Linked DNA regions of Homo sapiens. The protein of the gene in region 1 purifies or fractionates together with the protein of each later gene. This does not show direct contact. Each region holds a gene or a part of one and is shown on either strand. Other genes may lie near its edges.

Region 1 (5,478 bases):
AAGTTGACCAGCAGCCAGATGTCAGAGTTTGCGTGTTTTGAGCAGCAGCGGCAGCCTCACCAGAGACCCCACGGTGACCTCGTTTCATCAGCCAGCCCCGCAGGAGGAGGACAGGATGGGGTGAGGGGTATGGGGCCTGGCTCCAGCTATATGTTTTTAAAATCCATCAGAGACACTGACGTAGGTTCCTAAGTCACAGGCTCTAAAAGCGTTGCTGTTTCTTTCTTCAGCCCAGCATGTGCTGGCATGAGTCAGCCACCTGTGATGGATTTGGTGTGGAGGGGGAGTGGGTTCCTGAGTCACAGCCTCGCACGGCCCGGCAGGGGTGGCAGGTGCTGAGGGGACAGCCTTCTTGACTCACTTCACTCCCGGAGCACGCGGCCCAGGCCCCAATCCCAGTTCTGAACTCTGCCATGGCCCGATCTGCGGAAGGCCCTGTGTCACTGCGTAGAAAACCTCTGGGAGGACACACGCCTTATGGCTGTGGGTTTCTTACTCCCAGGGGTGGTCAGCAACAGGGTCTTTAGTCTGACTGTGTCTCATGACTGTTTTATCATGAAAATGTACCCAGGCATTATTTTTATCGGTGAAAATGAGGCATAAATGTTAAAACCCACAGTGGGCTTTTCCTCACGCCCTGCCTGTGAGTGTTCCCTCTTCCGGGAGGGCCCTTCTTGGTTGGCTCCGATGACAAACATGTTCACCCTACAAACCCGATCTGAGGCCAGCTGCGGGCTGCTTTGTATGCATCACCTCAATGAATCCTCCCAGTAATCTTCTGGCTTTACGCCCATTTCGCTGATGGAGAAACTGAGGCATGGAGTGGTTACTGACCTCGCCTAAGGCTCCCCAGCTAGGAAGTGGGGCTGGGCTTGGGGCCAAGTGTAGAACTCAGAGCAACCGCTCTACTATGGGTTATTGGGTCCCTGAAGCAGGCGATGCTGTCCCTCGAGGGAGATCTTGCCACGCCTTTGTTTCTGCTCCACTCCTGACCCAGCAAGTGTCCCTTCTCCACTGTAGCCTGCAGCTCGCTCCACTGCGAGTTTGCTGAGGCCGAGGCTACAGGCTGTCAGCTTGATGCCTCCCCTGTCAGCCACAAGCTCGGGCCCTGCTGAAGTAGGAATATTCCTGCAGGAAGTCCCCAACTTTGTGTTTGAAACAGACATGCTTACAAAATCAGACTTTGATGGGCTGCTGCACGATAAGCTATATTCCCTCCTCGGACACAGCTCGCACAGTCTTCTTCATTGGGCTGGAATAAGGTAACCCCCGAGTTTTTCAGTGTGGCATCTGGGGACCTTTGATAAACAGCCCCAACTCCTCCCTTGTGCCTCTTTGTTTCCTGCTGCTGCCAGCACCGCCACCTCCGTCTCATTTGGAGTTCAATAATACCAGACTCTTAGTTCCTTAGACAGCCCACATGCTGGGAAGTTTCTGTCCTCTGCACCTGTTCATGCTGTTCCCTCTGCCCAGATGCCTTTCGCTCTCTTCCTGAGTAATGCAGACTCATCTTCAGAGCCTTAACACAGGATGTCCTTCCCCCTGGGAAGCCCTCCCTGAATACAGCCTGCACCCTCAATTGAGCCGGGGGCCTTCCCTGTAACCCCCATGGTCTGCAAATTCCTCTGGGCCAGGGTGGATCCCACAGAGTCTCATTGTCTGTTCCAAGTCTGTGTCACAGGGGCTTGGCCAAGGCCAGATTCTTGTCTGCTCATCTCCCCAGTTCCGGCATCTCCTGAAGGACTGGCGCCATGTGGCCATCAGCCCAGGCTGCGGAGGTAGATGGCATCCAGGCATCAGAGGAGGGAGCAGTGCGTCCAACAGACGTGAGCTGAGACTGCAGCTCTCGACATGTGACCTTAGCAAGTTTCTTCACTGCTCTGAGCCTCCATTTTCTTTTCTGTAAAATGGGAATTATCAGATGACAAAGTCAAAGGATTCAGTGTTGTTTGTTTAGTCATTCATTCATTCAAAAAGTGTCTATTGAGCACCTGCTATGTGTCGGAGTCTGGGGAGCACAGCAGGGCGTGGACATGCTAATGGGAGGAGGCAGACGAGAACAGGATGGGTATGAGATGGCAGGTGATCCCAGAGGCTGTAGCAGGTAAGGGGATGGGGAATGGGGGCCAGGGTGCTCTTTTGCACAGGTGGACGTGGAGGGCCTCTCTGTTGGGCCCTGAGGGTCCGAGGGAGGGCCATGTGGAAGAGGGTCCCAGGAAGGGGTGCAGGCACAAAGGCCTAAAATGGGGCCACACTGGATGCTGTTCCCGGCACGGCAGGAGACCAGACAGGAAGCAGCAGAGGACACAGCAGCAGGAGGCCAAGCGGTGGGGACACGATGCTTGGCCAGCGGCCAGATGTGGCCTGTGGGCCACCACGAGGACATGGACCTGGACTCTGAGAGAATAGAAGCCGTGGAGGGTTCTGGGCAGAGGAGTGATGAGATCTGATGTAGGGTTTAAAAAGATCTTAACAGTCATTATTGGGAAAAGGCCCAGGCTGTGGGGAACATGGAAGCTGGGAGCCCAGGGAGGAGCCTGCCATTGTTGTCCATGAAGAGACGACCTTGGACCAGGGCAGCAGAGAAGAGGTCAGGCGCCAGGTGTGTTTGGAAGGTGGAGCTAACAGGGTTTCAGCTGATGGATGGGACGTCGGGAGTGAGAAAGGGGGGTTCCAGGATCATACCAAGGGTTCTAGTCTGAGCATCTAGGAGGAGGAGGAGGAGGAGGGTTCCAGGATCATACCAAGGGTTCTAGTCTGAGCATCTGGGAGGAGGAGGAGGAGGAGGGTTCCAGGATCATACCAAGGGTTCTAGTCTGAGCATCTGGGAGGAGGAGGAGGAGGAGGGTTCCAGGATCATACCAAGGGTTCTAGTCTGAGCATCTGGGAGGAGGGAGGAGGGTTCCAGGATCATACCAAGGGTTCTAGTCTGAGCATCTGGGAGGAGGAGGAGGGTTCCAGGATCATACTAAGGGTTCTAGTCTAAGCATCTGGGAGGAGGAGGGGGAGGAGGGGGAGGAGGAGGGACTTCGTGCTGAAACAAGGAGAAGCTGCAGTGGCTCCTGCCACATGGTTGTCACCAGCATCCTTTGTTCTGTAAATACTCATCCAGCACCTCTTGCTGGCTTGGCTCTGCGAGGGCTTGAGACCCAGGGAAGAGATGAGGCTACCACAGTCTGTCCATCAGGGATCCCCCGTCTAGGGCACTGGGGCAAACTTGGGTAGGAAATGATAGGGGTTTGGAGTCTGAGGAATCCCCATTAGTCTGCAAGCTCAAAGGTCATCCCCCAGCTGACTGTGGGGTCAGCCGCCCAGAATCCACAGAGCTGGAGGGGGAGCAGCTGCCATGAGTCCTGGCTTTGTGCCCGTCGCCCAGATGGGCACTTCACATGCACCCTCTCACCAGATAGTCCTGGCAGCCCCCTCGGAAGCTATGGTAGTGCCCCCATTCTGCAGATGAGGAGCCTGAGGCCCAGAGAGATGGGGTGACTCCTTTGCACAGTTGAAAATGATACAAGCAGGATCCAAACCCAGATCTGCCTGATTCCAGTGTCCTCCCTGGATCACACAGGGTGAGGCCCCAATGTTCCGCCCCCTGGAGAAGTCAACCAAACTCCTGAAACTCACATTTCTCCCCCAGGTCCCCGGCAACTTCCACGTGTCCACACACAGTGCCACAGCCCAGCCACAGAACCCAGACATGACGCATGTCATCCACAAGCTCTCCTTTGGGGACACGCTACAGGTGAGCAGGGGACACTCGAGATGGCATGGCCGGGGGTGGGCCTTCAGGGGCTCTGTCACCCAGTGCCCTCTGCCCTCTCTGGGCACTAGGAAGAGTTACCGTTAAGGTGACATCTAAGCCAAGCCTGGAAGGGTAAGAAGGGTTTCACCAGGAACAGAACAGGGAAATGGGTCCTAGGCAGGGGGCGTCTCAAACATCACCCCTCTCCTAGAGCGCCCAGCTGGTGGTTTTCATGTGAAAGACCCTCAAGGTTACTTTCAGAAAAATGGATCAGTAAGCGTATGTGACACGGCATGTTCTGTGCCGAGATGGTCCAGGGCACAAGGGCTCGCTTGGCAGCTGAGAGGGCCCAGAGCACTTGCCTGAAATGGGAGCCGGCAGGTGGGGTGTGTGGGGTGCGAGAGACCCGTGGTAGACTGAGGAAGGTGGAGACTGAAGGTCTGGTTGGTGACTCAGAGCACCCATCTGCAATGAGGAAGATGGACCCAGGAGGCAAGACTATAGGCAGGGAGGTGAGGGAAGGGCCCAGACCGAGGCAGGTGGAGGGGAGAGGAGCAGCGGTCTCGCATTGCCACGTGCAGGGGCAAAACAGAAGGACACAGAAACTACAGTCCCAAGTTTAGTCATTAGTGGGGTGGAAATCTGATTTTTTTAAAAAAATGTACAGAACTTAGCTTAGGGCCCATCCATCCATTCATTTTCTGTCCATCCATCTAGTCAACAAATATTTACAAAGTACCTACCGTGTCCAGGCCTTGCATACCTTGGTGAGGACAAACATGGTCCCTGCCCACCTGGAGCTTCCAGTCTAGGGGGGAAGACAGATGTTGATCAAATAATGGTACAGGCCAGGTGCGGTGGCTCACTCCTGTAATCCCAGCACTTTGGGAGGCTGAAGCGGGCGAACTGCTTGAGGTCAGAAGTTTGAGACCAGCCTTGCCAACATGGTGAAACTCTGTCTCTACTAAAAATACAAAAATTAGCCGGGCGTGGTGGCAGGCACCTGTGATCCCAGCTACTCAGGAGGCTGAGGCAGGAGAATCACTTGAACCTGGGAGGTGGAGATTGCAGTGAGCTGGTATCATGCCACTGCACTCCAGCCTGGGAGAAAGAGTAAGACTCCTCCCAAAAAAAGAAAAAATAAAAATAAAAATAAATGGTACAAATAAATGTGAGATAAAGCCATGTCACATGACAATGGAAGAGAACATTCTAGCCTTCTTGTCTCTGTAACCACCGTTCTCATGGGTTAGAAATGAAGCCTTCACACGGTCAGTCTCAAGACAGCAAATAGACAAACTTCCTTTTCCTTGTTGAGAAATTGCAGTTCCTTCCAGTTGTTGAGGAATTGCTTGTTGAGAACATGCAGGTGTGTTAAGTGCTCAGTAAACATCAGCCGCCTGAGACCAGGATCAGGGATTATGCCACCCCGCTGCTGCCCACTGCTCCTGGAGTGGCCACAGAATCATGTCCCCACGTACCTCTCCGATGTCTCCTCCTTCCTTCTATTCAAACACCTCACTCTCCTTCCTCCTGGGGGCCACGTGGGCCTGTCTCCATACTTAAGCCTTTGTACATGCTGCTTGCCAGTTTAACTTCCCACTTTCCTCCAGATCTTGGTGTCAATGTCATTTCCTCCAGGAAGGCCTCCAGGGTGTCTAGCTCGATAACCCCTGTTAACCATGCCCATGGTAGCATGCTCCATTTACCAGGTATGCCTTGTCCTTCTTTAG
Region 2 (2,464 bases), about 120 Mb from region 1:
TAAATAGTCATTTTTTTGAGACAGGGTCTTGCTATGTTGCTTAGGCTGGACTTGAACTCCTGGGCTCAAGCGATCTTCCTGTCTCAGTCTCTCAAGTAGCTGGAGCTTCAGGTACACACCAGCACCACTAGCTGTTAAATATTCTTTATCAAGCTAATGACTAGTTTCTCCAGTCTTTTTTTTTTTTTTTTAAATAAAATTTTGTTGGAATGAAGCAGCAAATTCTCACAGCTGTTAAAAGAATTGGACTCTGGCATACCTAACTGGAGAATACCATGCTGTTTTTTCTATAAACCGCTGGCATTTTATGCCTTTTTTGTTTGTTTTGTGTTGTCAACTACAAAGTAATTCTGTAAACAGTACAGATAGCCCTGGACTGCCACCACGGGCCAGGCCAGGGTAGTCAAGGTTGTCCATATGCACATGGGCAGATAACCTGTTTTCCTTTGACATTTTTTTCCAAGTCAAATTCTTGGAGGATTGTGTATTTGTATTATAGGAAGTCCAGATCATAGACTTTTAAAACTAAAAGCATCACTGCTGAACTCCAGCTCAGTCTTCCCATTTTATAATGAGGACTCTGAAGTTTATAGAGGTCAAGGACTTGTCCAAAGCTTTAGATATGTAGTGTCTGTGCCCTTTTCCTCTAAGTTTCTCCTAGAGAATGTGGGGGCTCAGGAACAGAGAAAATAAGGTGCAAAAAGTAGAAATGGGTGGTGTTTCTCAAAGTGTGGTCCATCTGCATCCTAGTGACTGGGGTGCTTGTTAAAATGCAGATTGCTGGGCCTTATCCCAATCTGACCAAATCATCTCAGGATCTACCTTTTGAACAAACTTGCCTAGGTCAAATTCACTCTTGTGGAAGTTTAAGTACTTCAGAAACAAGACAGCCACAGAAGGTGCACCTGCTAATTTGGTGGCTTCCAGTGCCTCATCTGTAACTTCTGGTGAAATCCTGAGATGTCTTACTTTACATTGTTTACATCCCATAACATTCCAACATTTAGAAATTCACTCGAGCTTATTTTTCTTACTTGTTTAGCACTAAATGAAAATAGCTCCCTGAAGTTAAGGAGTTTATATACAGTAATTCATGCAAGTGTGTAAATTAAACAGATGACTTTCCCCCCTAATATCTAATGCACAGCAGCTGTCCTGAAGGAGTGGGAACTTTGGATGAGGGGTAAAGGAGGGGATAACTTTGGACCGCTGGAGAGAAAGTCAGGCTGTAGAGGGCTTCTATAATAATGGTACCACCAGGAGGTGGGAGAGTGGTTCAGTAAGGGAGGAGGAAGGTTGCCAAAGAAATTACTCATCTTTCAGAAATTCACTAGGTTACTGCCAGTCAGCCAAACAAATCCTAGAAGAGAACTGTTGTGCCTCCTAAAAGAGAAAGGAAATTTCCTCCTTTTCCTTCCTCTGGCACAGGATGGGCTTCTAGCAGATGGGATTTTACATGTTATATTCTGAGTTTTAAACAAAATTTTGTGCCTTATTCTCTATATCGCCCCCTCTCCTAACTTAAATGGACATATAGGAGGTATACTCTAAGCTCAGTTATTCAAGCATGTTTTGATCATTAGAGCAAGATGGGGTGTGGAAGGGGCAGCCGTGGTCTAAAAGGAACCAACAACAAATTTTACCTAGTTTATAAATAAAATTATCACTTGGAAGTATCATCTGTGGCAACTTTGGATGAGCAGCATAAATTGAAAAAACCTGTGTTTTGTTTTCCCCTCTTGTTAACATCAATATTCATTAAAATATACACAAGTGGAAGTACTTACATATCAAGCACTTCCACTTCTGTAGTTGCTGTTTAAAGACAAATATTTTAAAGAGAACAGTTTTCCCCCTTAAAATCTGAGAGTATCATATTTTTCTTTAAAAGTTGTCATGCTTGGAAGCATTTCATGTTTCTGACACAATGCAAATTAGAATGTAAACTCTGGGCCAGCCAGTTTAAAGATTACTTTTTTTCCCCCATCATATAAAATAGGTATTTTCCCTATTATTTCCCTACCTGCCCCCCGCACCTCCCCCACCCCCCACAATTTCTTCATTCCAAACTGACCTGCAGTTTTCTCTTAAAATACCAGGTTAGTTTACCTACGACATGATAAAAAAAATATGGGATTTAAAAAGAAATCCATTCACGCAAACAGCAAACCCTGGCTGGGATGCTGCCGGTTCCCACTGCAGGTAGGTCTGCTGGTTCAGCTACTGAGCTCTGTGGTCTCATCAATCTCATCTGGATTTTTGGTCATCTTTTCATATTTTCTTTTGAAGAAGCCGAGCTGTAAAGGTGATGATATAAGAATGTTACCACCCGTGGCTTATTTTGTAAGGTGCCTCTGACCCCCTTGGCTGCCCACGTCCTCTGATGCACCTCTGGGAATCCCTGAGGCTCTGAAGGGAGGTGTGCAGACTGATGACCTGATATCTACCACCTGCTAGAAGGAAA
Region 3 (3,500 bases), on another chromosome or scaffold:
AATTAGCTACCCCAACTTCCATTCTGCATCAGAGCTAAAGAGGGAATTGTGGCTTGAATTAATACGGCTTGCCCACAGGCTCAAGAGTCATCATCCCACACATGCAGTCTCAGTTGGTTTGGGACAGGTTAGTTACACAAGAGGGAGATCAACCTCCCCATTGGCCAGGTTTCACCGGTCTAAACAATTCAATAGCAAGTAGAAGAGAAACAGTCATGAGGGCACAGGCCTGAAAATGCTCGGCAGAGATGGCAAGACACCACACAAGGCATTAAGCAAAGCTGGCCCACCCTCAAAGCTGCATATCAAGGCCTGAATAGGTGATGAAAATTAAGAAGTTGTGAATATGTTGGATTGGAAAGAAAGGTATCTCAAGTAAGACCTGCTCAATGGGGCTGTCACCTCTGCCACATAAACTTTACAAGAAAGCATTAATATCAGAAATGTCATTCTCTGAGGAAAGTGATCATATACATAGGTGGCTTTCTCCCAAAATATAATAAAAGTGCCTGCTTTTAACGATATTTTCCGTGGAAAGGGACTTCCAGCAGCAAAATACTTGTAGCAACTCTCTATCCTCTCATGCATAGTGATTCTTTTGATGAGAATAAGGAACTAGGGATGTGTAGCTCTGCCCTTCCAAATTACACTTGGAGCAAACTGCTCATAGGAAGCACAGTTCACTCTGTTATTCCAATACTCTTGTTTGGCAAGAGCAGGATTTTCTGTGAAGGAGGTCTACCTTGGCCCAACATTGTCTGTGACTGGGAGGGGAAGTTCAGGGTTAGGAAGTGCATTTGCCAACAAATAAAAAGCTACATTCTTTTAACATCATTTATAAAGCAGTCTTTTAATCTCTCAATCTTTTAATCTTTTAAAAAAGATTTCCATGGATTCAGATCTCAGGTAGAAAATGAGGTTGTCACTTATTTGGTCCTCTAGAGAACCCAACACCTACCTCATATAGTTATGGTTAGGGTGAAATAAAATATCTTTCAGTAATGGTAGATATCATTATTATTCTCTAAGAACAACTGTTTTAGAAAACACTGACTCTCTTATACTCCAAAAGTACAGTGTTCTCTTGGGTGACCACAATGTTGGTAAACTCATTGCAGCAACTACCTCAAGATGAGAAAAAGATCTTAAGAAATCCTAAGTCTGGCAGGAAATGTACATGAGTTTGATCAGAAAGGATCGGAAGGGAACAGAGGCTATCTCCTTCAGCCTTTACCGTCTGATCTGCTCCTCGGCCACAGAGAGAGCATTCTCAGCAGCCACTCTTTGGTCTCGTTCTTCTTCCAGCAGCTTCCTTAATTCATTCACTTCCTGTCTGGTGTTGCATAGCTGCTGCTGAGCTTCAGAAAAGCTTTAGGATGAGAGGAAAACAAAAAGCATCATCAGATGCAGAAAACAGTTGCTAATACAAGGGATTCAAAGTCTTCATAAGGTTGTAAAGCAAGAAAATCCATAGAAGCTTGTCTAAACACAATATTTTAAAAGCAAAGCTGTAGAGGGATTAAATGAAGCTGCAGAAAATACCTAAAGAAATTTCAGGAACTGATTATCTTTCATTTTACTATCATAGAGTAGTTGTTAGTGGTGTGTGTGTGTTGGTGTTGCTCTTTTTGTTTTACAAACTTTTCACACACAAATGTTAGTTATTATTGTTACTATTTGATCCTCACATCACTTCTGTGAGGCTAATAAGATAACAAGACATATTAAATCCATATAAAGGACTCCAGTTAAATCTAGATTACTGCCCAATTTCTGGACTCTGGTGTATGCTCCAGGGTTTAGAGAGCCACTCCCCTACCTTTGCTGCGGTTCCCTTAGTTCCTCAGGGTCACTCTTTCTGTGAACTCCATTCTTTTCCTGGGGAGCTCCTGGAGCAACATCTATATTTAGTGGCCCCTGGAAGAAGAATAAGCTTAGTAATTCAGTGATGAAAGCTCTTAAGAAAGTGTATTTGAGCAAAATGAGAGCTCGTTTACAGAGGACTATCCCCGCTTATAATTCTCAAGTCCAAATTTAGAAGTGAGAAGCTTCTGCTCTAGCAGATTACTCACCTACATAAAACTCTTGTCTTGATTAGATTTTTCTCCCAGATTCTCATTCTTGAATTTCTCCTCTTAAAAGTTAAGTCTGGGCCGGGCGCCGTGGCTCAAGCCTGTAATCCCAGCACTTTGGGAGGCCGAGGTGGGTGGATCACAAGATCAGGAGTTCAAGACCAGCCTGGCCAAGATGGTGAAACCCTGTCTCCACTAAAAATACAAAAAATTAGCCGGGTGTGGTGGCAGGCGCCTGTAATCCCAGCAACTCGGGAGGCTGAGGCAGAGAATTGCTTGAACCCAGGAGGTGGAGGTTGCAGTGAGCCGAGATCGTGCTACTGCATTCCAGCCTGGGCGACAGAGCGAGACTCCGTCTCAAAAAAAAAAAAAAAAAAAAAAAAGTTAAGTCTGCTGTGGATGCTTATGGCTTTTCCAGAAGCCACTTTGATCCTTCCCTTGCTTGTCCAGCCCCTCCCAACCCCCTTTTCCTCCTCCGTATCCTATACGTCTCCATACTAATTCTCAGTCTCCTCCAACTTCAATGCTGTACTCCTCTCCCTGGCTGTCAACAGTGCTGCCTGTTTTGTTCTCAGATCCAAAGTTTCCTACAATTTTCTTATAACTTAAAGCAAAATCAACACTTTCTCTGTTTCAGAGTACCAAATGTCTCAGTCATCACTGTTTCCTACTCATGTTTTGATTTCTCTCCCACCATCTCACTGATCTTTTTTCTTCTAATTGCTTCACTGTAATTTTTCTCAGACCTTATTCCCATCTCAATTAACTCTTTCTTCTCTCCCACTTTCTTCCCTGACCCCTAATTACATTAACTTCTTCCATACTGCTCTGTAGTGCTTCACCACTTGCACTAAATTTCATCACACTTCTCCCAGTCTCTCACCTTCTCTTTACTCACCGCCTGCAGCTCTTGAACCTGCTTCTCCAAGACTGCACAGTGATTTAAAAGGTCACCATAGTGCTGCTGGTTCTCACGAAGACTCTGACTGGTATCGCAGAGCTGAATGGAAAGGGTGTTTTTCTCTTCCAGTAGCTGAGAGAACTGAAACAGAGGCGAGGATAAGCATCATCCTGCAGTACTGTAAGCAGTGCTGAGGTGAAATGTTCTGAGTTTTCAGGATCTAATTTTCCTATGGAAGACCTTTGTTTCAGCAACAGCAACAATAGCACTTTGTGTGCCTTCAAAGTTGGAAAAAGCATAATTTTTTTTTGACCAAGACAGAAAACAATTCTGGAGGAGTAGCAGAAAGGTTTTTTTGTTTTGTTCTGTTTTGTTTTTTTAAATGGTGCCCAGTACATTAACTGAAAAACCATGAAGCAGAAGTCCATAAGCAATCTAATTACATAGGCTATTCTGGGTACATAAGAGGGAGAAGGCAGTACCTCAGGGTCAAAGTTCATGGTACTAACAAATGACTATAATCTCCA

What was found.
Region 2: the proteins of ERGIC1 (region 1) and ITGA2 fractionate together in Homo sapiens (co-fractionation; one large-scale study listed by BioGRID). This does not show direct contact.
Region 3: the proteins of ERGIC1 (region 1) and GOLGB1 fractionate together in Homo sapiens (co-fractionation; one large-scale study listed by BioGRID). This does not show direct contact.

The regions. Positions count from the first base shown.
Region 1 is NC_000005.10:172,920,365-172,925,842, forward strand, and holds part of ERGIC1 (endoplasmic reticulum-Golgi intermediate compartment protein 1), read left to right. Parts: coding exon of another isoform or gene 1-120; exon of another isoform or gene 121-1,162; coding exon of another isoform or gene 1,163-1,261; exon of another isoform or gene 1,262-1,723; coding exon of another isoform or gene 1,724-1,739; exon of another isoform or gene 1,740-1,938; intron 1,939-3,640; coding exon 3,641-3,745; intron 3,746-5,478. UniProt on the Homo sapiens protein: Possible role in transport between endoplasmic reticulum and Golgi.
Region 2 is NC_000005.10:53,090,352-53,092,815, reverse strand, and holds part of ITGA2 (integrin alpha-2 precursor), read right to left. Parts: intron 2,298-2,464; coding exon 2,217-2,297; 3' UTR 1-2,216. UniProt on the Homo sapiens protein: Integrin alpha-2/beta-1 is a receptor for laminin, collagen, collagen C-propeptides, fibronectin and E-cadherin. It recognizes the proline-hydroxylated sequence G-F-P-G-E-R in collagen.
Region 3 is NC_000003.12:121,666,242-121,669,741, forward strand, and holds part of GOLGB1 (golgin subfamily B member 1), read right to left. Parts: intron 3,115-3,500; coding exon 2,971-3,114; coding exon of another isoform or gene 2,956-2,970; intron 1,918-2,955; coding exon 1,820-1,917; intron 1,370-1,819; coding exon 1,235-1,369; intron 1-1,234. UniProt on the Homo sapiens protein: May participate in forming intercisternal cross-bridges of the Golgi complex.